Regions from separate parts of the Homo sapiens genome. Here region 2 is linked to region 1. The links come from fine-mapping of genetic effects on gene expression. Tissue or cell type: whole blood. Region 1 holds a variant in brackets; the other region holds the start of a gene. All regions are shown on one strand. Distances are between the middles of the regions.

The links. PIP is the estimated chance that this variant, and not a neighbour inherited with it, causes the effect.
Region 2: DOCK10 starts here. The variant in region 1 is fine-mapped to the expression of DOCK10 in whole blood (INTERVAL, PIP above 0.99).

The regions. Positions count from the first base shown.
Region 1 is chr2:224,919,039-224,927,038 of GRCh38, forward strand. The region is part of intron 2 of DOCK10 (dedicator of cytokinesis 10); the gene reads right to left. Among named protein-coding and RNA genes, the nearest start is that of MIR4439, 88 kb to the right of the region's middle. The variant C/A (reference allele first, on the strand shown) is at 3,299.
Region 2 is chr2:225,038,502-225,046,501 of GRCh38, forward strand. DOCK10 (dedicator of cytokinesis 10) reads right to left here and starts at 3,967. Exons shown (of 56, transcript NM_014689.3): 1 at 3,751-3,967. The coding sequence starts at 3,873. RefSeq lists an enhancer at 2,674-3,013 and silencers at 3,564-3,803, 3,994-4,363.

The DNA.
Region 1 (8,000 bases):
GTGTATGTGTGGTCTGTGTGGTGTATGTGTGGTGTGTGTGTGTGGGGAGTGTGTGTATGTATGTGTGGTGAGTTTATGTGTATGTGTGGCACGTATATGTGTGGTGTGTGTATGTGTGGTGTGTGGTGGGTTTGTATGTGTGTGATGTGTATGTGTGGTATGAGGGTGTGTGGTGTGTATGTGTGGTGTGAATGTATGTGGGTGTGTGGTATGTGAATGTGTGTAGGTTTGTCTGCATGTGTATGTCTGTACACATGTGAATGGGTGTGATGTGTCAGTGTGAGTGTGTGGTGTATGTGTGGTATGAGTATGTGTGATGTGTGTCTGTATAGGTGGTGTGAATGTATGTGGTGTGTGTGGTATATGAATGTGTGTAGAGTGTGTCTGCATGTGTAGGTCTGTACACATGTGAATGGGTGTGATGTGTCAGTGTGAGTGTGGATGGTGTGTATGTGTGGTGTGAGTGTGTACGTGTGGTGTGAATGTGTGTGGTGTGTCTGGTATGTGAATGTGTGTGGAGTGTGTCTGCATGTGTATGTGTGTACATGTGTGAATGAATGTGATGTGTCAGTGTGTATGTGTGGTGTGAATGTGTGTGGTGAGTGTTGTGTGTGTGTAGAGTGTGCGTGTGTCTGTCCACGTGTGAATGGGTGTGATGTGTTGGTGTGAGTGTGTGTGCATGTGCACATGCATGTCGGGAAGCACGGGGTTTGTATCCTGTGAAAGAGGAAGAATGCCATGTAGATTTAATAAGATCAGAGGATGAAAAATAATGAGAAAACTAGGATCTAGAGACATCAATGATGAAAATGAATGCTCGCCCTAAAGCACAGCTGTGGACTGAGCTCCCTGGGCCACTGCACTTGCTCCAGGATTTAACTGCAGCTGTATACTCAGAAGAGGCTGTGGCTACCAATTCAAACCAGGCATAGGTGCAGGGAGCAAGCATAGTGCCACGGATGGAACAGGGAGCCGTTGCTTTGCATGCAAAGTAAGATAGAGCCAATTTGGATCTTATTATTTACATTTTACTTTTTGTTGCTGTTGTTGTTGAGACAGGGTCTCATTCTGTTGGCCAGGTTGCAGTGCAGTGGTACAATCACAGCTCACAGCAGCCTCGACCTCCGGGGCTCCAGTGATCAGCCTCCCCAGTAGTTGAGACTACAGGTGCGCACCACTATGCCTGGCTAATTTTCACTTTTTTTTTTTTTTTTTTGTAGAGACAGGGTCTCACCATGTTGTCCAGGATGGTCTCCAGCTCCTGGACTCAAGTGATCTGCCTGTCTCGGCTTCTCAAAGTGCTGGGATTACAGGCATGAGCCACTGTGCCTGGCCTACATTTTACATTTTTAATTCCTTTAGAGTTCCCTTCTTCAAGTTGCTTATTTTATGCTATTCACTCTGTTAGAAGATAAATAGTAAATAAACTATATTGAAGTTTTGGAGTAGAATATTAAGAACCATGCCTAAATTGAGCTTTGGGGATTACTGCTGAATTTAAATGATCTGGGATGCCTTTGTTTCCTATTCGGATGGATAATTTACAGATATATGGTGTTGCTTGGTTTCCAGGGAATATTACATATTATAATCTACTGGGAACATTAGACATTTTTCTTTCTAATTAAAAAAAAATTCTATATTATGGCCATTATTAATAAAATTTTTATACAAAAATGCAAGCTATTCCTCTTTTCCATTTTCCACTAGAGTCTCCATTGCTTTCTTGACTTTTTAAAAAAATACTTTAAGTCTGATGGAGAGTAGAGTAACATGGCCCAGAATTAAGCTTATAATTAAGTAAAACATAAATAATAAGATCCAAATTGGCTCCATCATATTTTGCATGTGACACAACCACTCCCTGTTCCATCTATGTAGTAAACTTACTGTCCCACTACGATCACTGCTCTGTGACATAATAAAATAAAGTGGGCTGGGCACGGTGGCTCATGCCTGTAATCCCAGCCCTTTGGGAGGCTGAGGTGGGCAGACCAATTGAGGTCAAGAGTTTGAGACCAGCCTGGCCAACATGGGAAAACACCGTCTCTATTAAAAAAAAAAAAAAAAAAAAATATATATATATATATATATATAATGTATATACACAAAAAATAGCCGGGCATGGTGGCGGGCACCTGTAATCCCAGCTACTCAGGAGGCTGAGGCAGGAGAATCACTCGAACCTGGGAGGGGGAGGTTGCAATGAACCAAGATCATGCCATTGCACTCCAGCAATGTTGCTGGGCAACAACAGCAAAACTCCATTTCAATAAATAATAATACTAACGTGAACACTTAGCTAATTTAAGAAGTTTTTTGTTTGTTTGCTTGTTTTATTGGTAAGTTTCTGGAATGTAGGCTTGGGTTCCCCATAACAGTAATCACATGGCTACTAGATTAGTAATGTCCTATAGTTAGATAGGCCCCCAAATACATAAGGTAATGTTCACATCCAATTTATGAGACTGCGAATTAATTCAGGCCGAGTTACAAAAATTGCTTAATCACGTGTACAATGCCTGGTGGTCTCTTGTTATAAAATGATGTTGACTTTTTACTAAATAAGACAACAGGCTGAATTATGCTCTTGGAACCATGTGATAAATCTAAAACATTATTTTACAATATGTGCAGTTATTGCATATCTAATATCCTGTGCAGGTTACACAAGGTATAGGAAAGAGAATACATGTATGATGTATGCCCATAACGTGCTATTGATCTTAGTTGTATTTTATTATAATGCTGGAGCATTTGTCTGAAAAAGTGCAAGGACAGCCAGGCGCTGTGGCTCATGCCTATAATCCCAGCGCTTTGGGAGGCTGAGGCGGGTGGATCACCTGAGGTTGGGAGTGTGAGACCAGCCTGACCAACACGAAGAAACCCCGTCTCTACTAAAAATAAAAATAAAATAAAATAAAATAAAAATTAGCTGGGCATGGTGGCACATGCCTGCAATCCCAGCTACTCGAGAGGCTGAGGCAGGAGAATCGCTTGAACCCGGGTGGCGGAGGTTGCGGTGAGTCGAGATGGCGCCACTGTACTCCAGCCCGGGCAGCAAGAGCAAAACTCCATCTCAAAAAAAAAAAAAAAAAAAAAAAAGTGCAAGGACTCCACAAGTTTCCACTTTAAAAACTGTGGCACTTCTTCTCATTTTAGATCTCTTTAATGTGTCTCCACTGAAGCAAAAATGAATTGATCGAATACAAAGAAAACTGTAAACAATCATATTTGGTAAGGGTTTTAATATGGTTACAAAGAATTTTTTCTTTTCTGAGAATCAGATGCTTTCAGA[C/A]CACTACAAATTGTCTTGACCACAAGAGATTTCCTGTTCTCTTTTATAAAACTCTGGTCAACAATTAGTATAGCTCAATAGCATAAAAGGGATCTGAAACTGCAGTGGAACTCAGCTGAGCTTCTCCTTTGGTGGTAGGATTTCATAAGGAGCCTATCTATTGTCCAGAGATCAGGCATTTGGAAATAAAAACTGTCCTGAAATGATGCATGCAGGCCTGTGTTTATAGTTTCAGGTCCATGAGATTCAGACATCCTCCCTTGCAGCCCTGTCACTTTCTGGTTTCTTGTAGCCTGCAGTGGATGGTCTTGGAGGTTTCGTTACAGCCACCAATCTGCTGGCTATACTGGCTACAGAAGACTTCCTTCCAAGCACATCAGGACTATCTCTCAATTGGCCAAAGGTCACTGTAAAAGTCTAAAAAAGGGCTGCTTATCCTATCTTGGGGCTGAGAAAAGCTTCCTCTGACAGTATTGTAGCTTCCCCCTGTTCAAAAAGGAGGACAAAATGATGGTGTTTAAAGTAATCAATCAGTCTAAGCTTGGGGAGTTATAAGCCTCACAATAAGAACTATTAACTAAAACTTTGTGATTAATGACCCTCAGCATGTGTTTAAAAGTGATTTTAACCTAAATTTCTCAGACATCGATATTGTCTTTTATTCTATTAGAGAATGTCCTTAGATTACATTAGTTTCTTGAAAAACATCTTTTACCACATTCAGAAGAGTATTGTTGTGATTTTATTTTACTTATTGTTTAAATATATGAGAATATTACTTTAGTACCTGACTTGTGCTTTAAAGGGAAGGCCCTTCTTGTTTTGCTGGGGTTGAACTGTATGGCAAATATACAAATAATGAACAGTTGTCTATTACTTGATAGCAGTCATTCCAGCCAAGTTAAGCATGAAGACACAGTGTTGTAGTATTTAGGTATATAGTAGTGATAGAATCCTATAAGAAGAACTTCAAGGTGTTTTACTCTTGGATTGACAAACTACTGAGCCAGTCATTTCACTTCTTTTTTGTGACTTATTTTCCAGGCTCCAAAACATGTCTCATCTCCTCTAAAGAGGTGAGGACCAAACATTCTACATATGGGAAGATGTGAGCATTAATAGAAACGAGGTGCTCCAACAATATAAAGACACCTACTGCACCAGGACCTCCCCCTGGCAAAGACTCTGAGGTCTGTGGTCTGAGTTTACCATCCAAGAAAGCCCAGTGAAGAGGGTTGCCTGCTGCGAGGCCTGCAGACATGGTCTAGGGAAGAGAAATGGACTGAAGAGCGGCCCAGCACTGCCAGCTCTCACCGGCTCCATCCCACCTGGCTGCCCGCATTTCTCCTTCAGGGCCAGCCTCATTCCTGCACAGGGCCTTTGCCCATGCTCCTCTGCCTCTCCAAAAGTCTTTTTCTTTCCTCATTCTTTAGAAATCTCAGGTTTTGTATAGGTGCCAGCTCCTTTTCAAAAGCTTTCTAATTCATCCAACACACATTTTTCTTCCCTGAATGCTGTTATTTACTCTCTGTAGCACACATGAAGTCTGCAGCTTACCCATAGAATATTTTAGGCCGAAAGGTTATGCTGCTGATGAATTCAGCCGGTCATTTTACCTGTGTGTTTTATTGTTTATAAGCAAGCCACATTACATCTGCTTTGGGGGTAAAATATAACAACTGTAAAATAAGTTTTGCCATGTTCCTTATTACTCCTTTGCTATGTTCCATTCATTCCTTTTAAAGAATAAAGTGCTCGTATCTACATATATGCTTTCATGATTCCTTTGTATCCTTCCTGTGATCACGTGCACCACCTCTATCCTAACACATAGAATGGCTTTTTAAAAAAACCATCTAATTGAGATATAACTGATCTGTCATAAAATTTATCCTTTAAAAGTATAGAATTGAGTGGTTTTTGGTATATTCACAGAGTTGTGCAACCATTACCACGATTTAATTACAGAACATTTTCATCATGCCCAAAAGAAACCCCATATCCACTAGCATTCTCTTCTCATTTTCCCATCTCCCCAGCCCATGGCAACCACTAATCTCCTTTCTCTCTCTATGGATTTGCCTATTTTGAACATTTCCTATACGTGGACTATATGGTCTTTTGGGACTGGCTTCTTTCACTTAATACAATATATTCAAGGTTGATCTAAATTGCAGCATGTATCAACATTTCATTCCTTTTTATGGCTGAATAATAATGACATTCCATTTTATGGATATACCACATTCTGTTTACCCATTCATCAGTTGATAGATTATTTGGGTTATTCTCATTTTGGGGCTATTATGAATAATGCTTCTATGAACATTTGTGTCCAAGTCTGGTGTGGACATACATTCTTAGCACAATCAAACACAGACCAGGGTCTCCACACACATTCTTACTGAAATGAAATAAACAACCAGAACTGTTTCACTACAGTACTTATTTTCTAATGGCATCACTCACTGTGGGATTCAGGAAGTTAATATTTCCCCCAACTTGTGTGCCTTTTTTTTCTAAGAAGCGTCGGCCAAAAGCATGCTGTTTAGACAGAAACTAATAGTAAAAGTCAAGGTGCTTATGTTAGGTGTTTGTCCTTCCAGTTGCTCTATTTCCTTGAACAACAGCCTTTCCAAATCTTAACTTCATTAGCTTGTAAATGAGAGGAATATTATAACATAGAAAGAATCTAATTCGACAAAGACTATTACTCAGTTTTCAAATTGAAATTACAATGTTCTTACATGAACACCAGGAGCCGTTTAAAAGCCTGCTTTTCAGGCTCAAAAGCCACAGATTTAAAAGAGGTTGAGATTCTTATAAAATGTTAACCTTTGTCTCAGAAAAAAAAAAAGAAAGAAAACTCATGACCTTACTGATTTGCAGTTTAAAACATATTCAAATCTTTCTGCTTCCTTTCCTAGAATGACCCTTGTGGTTGAGTCTAGAAGTCCCCATATACCATTTGCTTTTCATTGCTAAAGACATACTATGAAAAGAACAAGCCATTGGTATATTATGATATCCACTATTCTGAGTTTTAATAGCCAGTGAAAAGTGCAGAATGCCTTTGAGTACCCTGGGACACAATTCTGACCTACTAATATGAAGATGGAATTTGAGAAGATAATGAGACTCTTAGGTGACTGTAGTCATGTGACATAGACTTTTGACTTTGAAAATTGCACTGCCCGGTGTTGAAAGTCTAACTGTTCAAGTGTAAGGTCTGCTTCTTATTCGTATTGGTGTCCTGGATATAAACAGCTTAGATCACCAAAGGTGGTCCATGAAGGTAAATTGAAATAGAGTTTTACTGGTGTGGACAAAATTGAAGTATAGTTGATAGGTGGTCTTCCTACACAGTGTACAGTCTTACCAGCTTTCAGACATCAGAACTTTCTTATTTATGGTTTTGTACTTCCCAGAAATGATCCCATCTCAGGCTTTCTACATCTTTTGCTCAGGAAGAAACTCATTTCTGACTTTCTCAACTTTTTTTCTGCTATTTTGCATCAGTCTTTTCTTAAACTGAATCATTTGACAATATGATTCAATGTGTCCTTGAAACCATTTTTCTTAGCCCTTGCTTTCTTTTCTTACTTTCTTTGCCACTTTACTGAGTCACACACTTTGGTGACTAAGTTCTTTATTTTTTGTTTTGTTTTAAAGTTTCTATTACTACCAGCTTGAAAAAGAAAGATGAAAAAAAGTAGCAAATACAATTATTGAAGCAGTACAAGTTTTTGCAATGAATGGCTTAATAAATACATCAATACTGCTTATTTTAGTGAATCATTAGGACACATGTAGTGCAGGAGTTCATACTGCTTAGTCCCAGAACCCACATACAAGGAGGACTAGCTTCTACCTGGTGTGCCAAAATAAAGGAAAGTGCTTCTGTGTCAGGCCCTCAACCTGGAAGAAAACTATTTTAATTCAATGTTTGATAATCTATTGAATGCCTATGAATCAGACATTGTGTTGGGTACTTGAAGTACAGATATGAACTGATTTGTCCCTTGTCTAGTAACAGAAAGGAAGTGAATGAGTAAGTGAAGAAGTACACTAAAGTGTTAGAGGGCTGGGTGCAGTGGCTCACGCCTGTAATCCCAGCACTTTGAGAGGCCAAGTTTGAGGCTGCAGTGACTTCCCACTACACTCCAGCCTGGATAACAGAGCGAGACTCCATCTCTTTAAAAAAAAGTGTTAAAAGGAGGAAACTAAGCTTTGCTGATATCAGCTATGAGCCAGGCACTATGTTAGAAGGAATGGGCCTCTTTAAAAAGGGAAACGTGTTCTTAGTGCTGTTTTTTAAGGTGATATGTTGAGTTGAGTTGTGCCAAAGCAGGAAGTATTTTCCTTACCATCAAGCAAAGCCAATTACTTCATCCTCTTTGTTCTCAAGAATTTTGTTTCAGAAAAGCCTTTTGGTTCCTCAAGGTACTCAAGGGATCAACATTATGTTATAAAATAGCAATCTAGATGTTTCTGAAAGATAATTCATGAAATAAATATTTATTTTCCATCTGCTTTGTGCCAAGTTCTGCTTTAGCTGCTGAAAATCTTTCAACAATCAAGACAGAAGAAGTCTCTGTCCTGCTAGAGGCTACTGTCTAACAGTGAGAAACAAGTGACAGAGGAGTGAAAAAGCAAACCAAGATATTTCCCAGTGGTGATAAGTGTTATCAAGAGAAGCAGG
Region 2 (8,000 bases), 120 kb after region 1:
AAGAAGGGAAATGGAATTTACTGAAATAAATACTTTCCCCTCTTTACCCCTTACACTTTCTGGGTGGGTAGGAAGGGAGAAAACCTCCTGGTTAAGTATAATCACTTCCGGCAGGATGCTTTCTCTTTAAAATGAGTTAATAACAAAATTAGATACAATTAAAAAGGAGTTGCAAAGGAGTTTTTGTCTAATAATAGAGTAAATATAAAGGCATTAAAAGTGCATGTAACTAAAGTGGTAAGCTCCAGTCTAGGAAATAGATGAACGGCTTTGGGCTAAAACTGACCAAATGATTATTTGATCTCTAGTAAATGCTTCCTTTCCATCATCTGACTCTATGTAGATCTCATCCTTCTGGTTATCTGAAGCCTTCCATTGCACTAACCCACCTAAAACATTCCATAAATAAAACTCCATTTCTCTCAAAGTGACAGATCTGATGGGGTGTTTGCAAAAAGTTTACCTATACTTTTTTTAAAAAGTCTTTTCTTTTGAAATGCTCTCAAATACAATATATATGCAGAAAAGTGCACAAATCCTAAATGTATATCTTAATGAATTATAGAAAGCTATCTAAATGAACTAATTCATGCTAGGGTACAGATACACTTCATTCATTTTAAAAGATGAGCTTCTTATCAAAAAGGAATTTCTAATTAGTGGCATTACAACTTTGAAGCCAACATGGTATGTATATTCAACCAATGTAATAAAACACTCCAGTTCTGATATGAGACAAATGTTTCTAATCATTTTCGGGCTGAAATTCTACCCTAGAGAAGCTTGCTTTATGAAACAATCAGGAATGAGATTTCAGGAAATTATGAGAACTTGACATGATCCTTTGAATTGATCTTCGAATGAGTTGTCTTTCATTTATTTTCTATGGGGAATTTTAGGATAATGAAGGAGCAAATATTTCTCCTTTTGAAATGTATGTTTTTGTTCATTACTGTTCTTGGGAGGGGTGAAGAATAAGGTGGTTCGTGTCTAGGAGTCTGCAAGTACATAAGCCTACTACATACAGTGCTTTGGGTAAAAACTGACATCAAATTTGCTTTGGCATACACCTGTATTGTCCTCAACAACTGCCTTAAAATTTGGCTTTCCCAGTCATTACCCTCACTCAGCATCTCCTTGATCTCTCCTCTCCATATTCAAACACATTTTGAAGGCTTCCTGTCTTCTCTCTCTCTCTCTCTCTCTCTCTCTGTATACACACCCCATTCTCAGGGAAGAAAACTATCTTGTTAACCTGACAACCTTACCTAAACTTATTGGAGAGAGCAGAATTCAAACCCTATGGCAATCTTTTGGCAATGTCCTGGAGGATTTGTGTCCCCAAGACAGGGATTTCAGAAAGGGGAATATACAAATCTAGCAGTAAGATACTTTTTCTCAGCAGGAGTTTCTAGTCTCTTTCAAATACCTTGCAATAGAGGATGGCTTGCTCCAATACACACCCGCGGTTCTATGAGTCTGTACTGAAGTCGGATATCCATAATATTTTCCCCAACATCCTATCATTTTTCTCCCTTGACAACCATGTTTTGAGAACTTGAAGCAACAGATATGAAGAGTCTTAAGGGATTGCATCAATGTACGCTAAGATTAGTCTCTACCACATAGTCCAATGACACGGTTTTAGGTTCAGAAGGGATGCTCTACACCCACAGAATCCCACCGAGTTCAGGTGCCAGCTCAGAGAACTCATCACCTTCCTGTTTCCCTTCAAGAGTTAACTGATGGGATAGTATGCAAAGCACATGCGTTCTTGCTGCCAAAATAGCAGCCAAAACTGCCTGCCTAGATGTGTAAGATCCCATGAAATGTCTTGGCAAAAGCTAGTTTAGGAGTGTTGGCCAAGGTGCTGAAGCGAAGCAAGGGGAGTCAGGACCACCTTTGCCACTGAATCTCCCCTCCCCCACCTCTTTTTAAAGACAGCGAGCTTATTCATTTTGACAAGATACCCTAGGATTTCAAATCTGACATAATTTTGGAGAAAGCAGTGCGTGTGTGTGTGTGTGTGTGTGTGTGTGTGTGTGGTGTAGAAGGGTATCTGGGATACATAATCTTTATAGAAATTCTAGTGCCACAAAAATTCTAGGAGGATCTACATTTAAAAAAACACACAACAGTTTAAGCTGTTTATTCCAATTGAACGCTGTGTGTTTCCATCAGATCCTCAGTGAGATTCAGTCCAATGAGTCAATTGCAAAATAAAGTTTTTGTCAAGGGAATGGCAGAAAATGACAAAACCACAATTCTGAATGATCATTCAAAAGTAAAAAGTACTTTCTACTACTGTGTGGAGATTTTCTTATCTCTACTTTTACTCGAATTGAATCTTTTCTTCTAATGTTCTTTTGAACAGTTTGTCTTTGGTGTCCTGAAAATGTGCACGCTGATAGCAGTACCACATGCTGTCCCTGGCACAGAGTGAGCTAACAGTTGAACCACCTCTGGGTAACTGCGGACTGCAGCTAGTGTAAGTGCAAGAGAAGGCACCCTGGCCACCAATTCGTTTCACACTCCAATCACCCCCGCCCGCTCTACACCCCCTGGGCACCCGATGCCTCTTCCCTCTGCCAGGCAATTTGCTTCCGTTCTGTTCAACTTTCCGACCTCTGGCTTTAGAGAATAGTCCTGGCTGTGGGAACTGGCTCTGGGAAGCTTTTGGCGCCCTCCTCATTGGTGACTGGCAAGAGTAACACTTTCACACTCTTAAAAAGAGCCGTTTAGTTCCTAATGATATTTTCTGGCAAAAAAGAAAATGAAACACACAACCCGGATTCCGGTCCACCAAACGCAGGCCAAGAGCGCGGCTGCTGAGCCCCGGTCTTGCTGTGAGGCTGTTGTTCCCACTCGCTTCCCGTTTCCACTAGAGTTGATTTGTCTCTTGCCACCTCTCCCCGGCAGTGTGGACCTACTGCAACGCAGGAACATCTGGGTTGGTATGGATAGGATCCTAGCATCAGATGCTGGCTGCTGCCCCAGGGACTTCCCGCGGAAATCACCCAGCACTTAGAAGCCGTTTCAATAAGGAAGTAACCAGTAAAGCATTGCTGGTGGGAGAACCCCGCGAAACATCTTAGAAAAATATCAGAAACCGCTGGAGACCTAATGACCCACGTCTCCTCCAGCCTGTGTTCCTCAGCCCTTTCTGGAGGAGTATTAAGTGGTTTGTGGGTTTTTACCCTGCGGTGGGAGGGCTGTTCCAAGTACATCTATTTCTGCGATAGTTAACGTCGGGGGGCCCCAGCTCTAACCAGGGCGAGGACCACGGACTGCATCCCTCTCTCTCAGCGCACTGGTCTGTTTACTGGAGGGTGAGAGGGACGCGCAGACCTCCGGACTCAGGGGTTCTGTTCTGTAGATCCCCCCACCCCACCCGGGGTCTCTGGCACTCGTATCACTTAGCACCAGTGTGACTGGCGGTGCATTCCGGCCCCCTCGCGCCCCATTAAAGCCCCTGCACATCCTCTCCCACGCTGCGCTTCTGCTACCCACGCAGCTGCTCCTCTGAGCGTCCCGCGTGCACAAACGCGCCCCCGGTCCTTACGCGTCGGTGGCGCTGCCTCGCTGAGGTGGCGCCGGGGGAGCCCGCAGAGGCGGCGGGGGAGGGAGTGCGGAGGAGAGGACCCGTGAGCTGCGGGGACCTGGGCCCGCCGAGCTTTTGGGGAAGCTGGGCTCCGTTCCCCCCGGGCGCCTGGGGCGCGCGGGAAGGCGCGGAGGACGCGCCGCACTCACCCGCTGCTGCTGCCGGCTGCTGACTGCCACCGCGGCGGCGGACGCGGCGCTGTGCCGGAGCTCGGCCGCCTGCCCAGGTCTCAACAGGCTCCGGGTGAACCTGCGGGTCCGCTCACCGGCCATCGCCGGTCACGCCAATCGCGCCGCGGGCCCGGGGCGCGCCTCCCGCCGGTCTTCCCCGCGCCAACCTTCTCTATCCACCCGCCGTTCAGGAAGCGGAACTCGGAGCCTTCCCCCCCCTCTTCCTCGCTCAACTCGCAAGAGGCGGGTTTTTCTCTCTTGCACCCCCACTCTTCCCACCCCCTTCCCTCCTCTGAAGCTTCTCGAAGACTTTCCAAACTCTGCGCTCCCCCGGGCGCGCGCGGCCAACTCGGCTGGCGGCCGGGCCCTGCAGCGGCGCATCTGGAGCGGGCGTCGCGGGACGCGTGTGGGGCGGCTCCTGCCCGCGCCGCCCACACGGGCTCAGCTGGCCGGCCGGGGCTGTCCACGCCGCCCGGGGGAACTGCAGGCTGCGGGGGAGGGCGGGGGGCGGCCGCCGAGGGGCTCCGGGCGGGGCCTGTCCAAGGCCGTCGCCTGTCCAAGGCCGTCAGCCTCATTTGGAGGTTGCTGGGAGAGTTGGAGCCCTGGATGCATTTGCCGTTTAGACTTCTATTTTCTGGGTCCGGCTAGTGGGTGGGGGCCAAGCTCGGTTCGCCCTTCCACCCTCGGGAAGGGGTCAGAGGCTTATTAAAGATCTGGTGGCTGGGATCCCAGCAGCATCGCCCAAGCCAGCGTTTGGAAGGCTCCCTTGCCAGAAGTCCATGTTCAGGGCCTTGGAATAAGCTTCCCCATTCATTCACTCCTTCAATGAGTATTTATTAAGCGCCTACTATATGCCAGCTCACACTGTTCTGGAAACTGAGGATACGGAGAGGAACTTAGCAACTACACTTTAAGGCTGTGTAGAGCTGATAGGTTTTTTCGGGGTAGGGGTGGGAGACAGCAAGTAACCAAGCGAACAAATAAACAAATACAGAGAAATCAAGGAGACAGTTTAAGCTACTAACACGAACTCAAAACCAATAAATCAGCGTTCTGGGGGTAAGAGACTTTGGGTGGCATTAGGATGAGTAGGCAAGAACCAACTGGCAGGGTTACTATGTAGGGTGGTCAGGTCGGGGGTGGATTTCACAGTTATGCTGTCTCTGCTCTTCTCTTGCCCATACCCATCTAGCCTGCACTTTGCCTCTAGATAGGTATCTGATGAAAGCCTTCTAAGAAGTCTCTTCCTGGGTCATACCCAGGGTGGTTCTGCAATTCAGTGTTGGACTGGATGGGGGGCAGAGAAGTTCTGGCCCCTGGATACTGGTCTGGAGAGATCTGGGACAGCCTTTCCAAGTGGTCTGGTTTTTTCTTAACAGCTTTTTATGGATCCATGACCCTGCCACTTTCTAAAGCCAATGATAGATAGTTATAACACAAGGTCACATTTGGGTATAAAGAATTCTTAAGCAATTGATAAATGCACTTTAGTCAGCTCTTTGTTAGCCAGGATTCAATTAGCCAGAGATGCTGTTTGGGGATCATTTCAGCACATTCTAGAAATCATAACAGGCGTAAGAGGGTAAGAGGCTCTGGCAGATTTGGGAAGTGCCATTTGAAACATCATCTAGTTCCAAGACAGCCTGCATAACAAATAACTGTACCTGTATTGTATGCTTTCATATTGGTACTCAGTGTGGGAGCAACACCACCTTTCAGGGTAAGCAAAGTAGGTGGTTGCCTCTGTGTTGGTACATGAAGATCTCTGTAGGAACAGCTCCCTCCAACCGTACCCTTTCCCAGGTGTACCCAGACTTGATGTCTCTGAATGCATATTCCCCTGAGAGAACCGATTAAGCACATTTGAATTAACTTGAGCTTCCCAAGAAGAGGTACCTAATCTTTGTCTCTGGTTTCAAAACACTGCCTGGCACACGTAGGCACTCAATAAATATCAGCTTATGGATGACTTTACAAAGGGCTCAGATGGGCTAGTGCAGTCAGAGAGCTGGGTGTGCCTGACACAGAGAAAGTCAGAGAGGAGAAGAGAAAGGTGTGCTGAAAGGGAAGGCTATAGTAATCGATAATACATCAGAATGTGCCCTGCACAAGGCAACTCGCTGATCCAAAACACTGAGTAGCACACACAACCCAATCTCCAACAATATCGAGTAACAGAAAGTCACTTACAATTTGTTAATCGTACAATTAATACACCTAATTGTACTTTTTCCAGCTTCAGGAGGTCACCCAGAGCACTGGTGTGAGAGGGTTTAACGAACAAATGCCTGTTTGCCCAATCCATACCCTGTATGATGTTAATTCCGTGGGTCACACCGAGTAGGAAGGCAGGTTTAAGTGTTGATAGCATACCTCTCACACCCAGGGCATGTCAATAATGATACTTCAGAGACTCTCCTCCGCCCTTATGATCATGTAGGTTTTAGTTAAGCTTCCTTCGGGCACCAAGGAGAGAGAGCTGAGTGTCGACCCTTGCCCCTGCCCTTGTAGCATAAATACACTTATTTTTTGCTACAGAAATGTAACTTCAGGTCTGCTGATTTGGGACCTTGACTCTGCTGGCCACCCATCTCTCAGATCCCTGGAGAAACTCGGCTCAGATGCTTGGTAAACGCAAATCTGTGCACATATCATGAAGTATGTTAAGTTTCTTGGAACAGCTAGTTAATAAGAGAATCTTCAAGGGCTTGTAATATTGTAGAATAGTGGTTAAAATACATGCTCTGAAGTCCAATTACCTTTGTTCAAATCCCAACTCCGTAAGCCTCAGTTTCTTACCTACGCAATCAAGATAGTAGTTGTGTGGCTGGGCTGCTGAGAGAGTTACTTAAATTAGTGTAAATTTCTTCAAAAGTGACTAGCACATGGACTTCAATAACTGTTATTATCCCTACACTTGCAGATAACTCAGGAATTAAACAAGCTTCCATGTCTTTTCATATATTTGATTCTCATATGAACCCTGTTATTATTCCTACACTTGCAGATAACTCAGGAATTAAACAAACTTCCATGTCTTTTCATATATTTGATTCTCATATGAACCTTTGCGAGAAGAAGGATGGATGGGTATTATCTTGGAGCCAAGGCTGGGGATTTAATGAGCATTCTGGAGACAATGTCTTAACCCAAATCAATGACTATGGAATTTCATGAACAAGAATAACAATAACAATGTAATCCTTATAGTATTAACCCACTATTGTGTAACAATATGTAACTATAACATAATGTGCTACAGTTTGGATAATAGTTTCACATATATTATTTCACTTGAATTTTAATATATTATAAAATGGGGTTGTTCAGCCCATCTATCCCATGTCTCGCTGTCTAAAATTGTAGATGGATCATTAAAAGAGCTCCCCAAATGCATGGAACAGACATTTTAGAAACCAGTGGTTGCAAATTTTGCTAAATGTTCTCAAATCAAGATTGTACTAATACATAGAATGCAGAGGCTGCAATCAAGTTTTATCAGTGTTTGAATTTGCCAATTCATTTGAGTTGTCACGAGACAAGCCATTCACTGAGGAAGAAATAACCCCACTCAACAGACACTTATGGAATATCAACTATGGACAGGATCTCACACTATGCTAGGAGGGCACAGAGCTGAGCAAAATGTTTCTGTCTCCAAAAAGCTCAATTTCATACAGAGGAACTGACTTAAAAAACATTACTGGTGCTCATGGGTGAGTGGGTAGGGGGTGAGAGTAAGATTTTGGAGATGGAGCGTCTATGGACCCATGTTAACATTTTATACTTCATATTTTTATGACTTTTTAAATAAGATTGAAAAAATTGGTCTCAATAACATGGAATTTTCTAGCCTTCTCTTTCTCTTCCCCTCTTTACTTACCTCCTTTTCTCTCTTCTTCTTTCTTCCTTTCTCTCTTTGTCCTTTTCTTTCCTTCCCTCACTGCTTCCTCCCTTCCTTCCCTTCTTCCTTCTTTAAAATTTGATACTCTTCTTATTCATACTAAAGCATCACTTACTTTCATAAGATGTAGTAAGCACTGATTACTTGACCTGGTACAATTCAAAGCTTTATAGAATTAAGAAACCACAACTGTCAATAGCCCTCTCCTGTCATCCTTCTACATGACTGTGTCCATGTCTTATCAGCAAGGAAAGACTTCAGAAATTTTTTCATAGCAGTAATAAGTATAAATGTGAAAACTGTACTATATTTTCCAAAATACCTA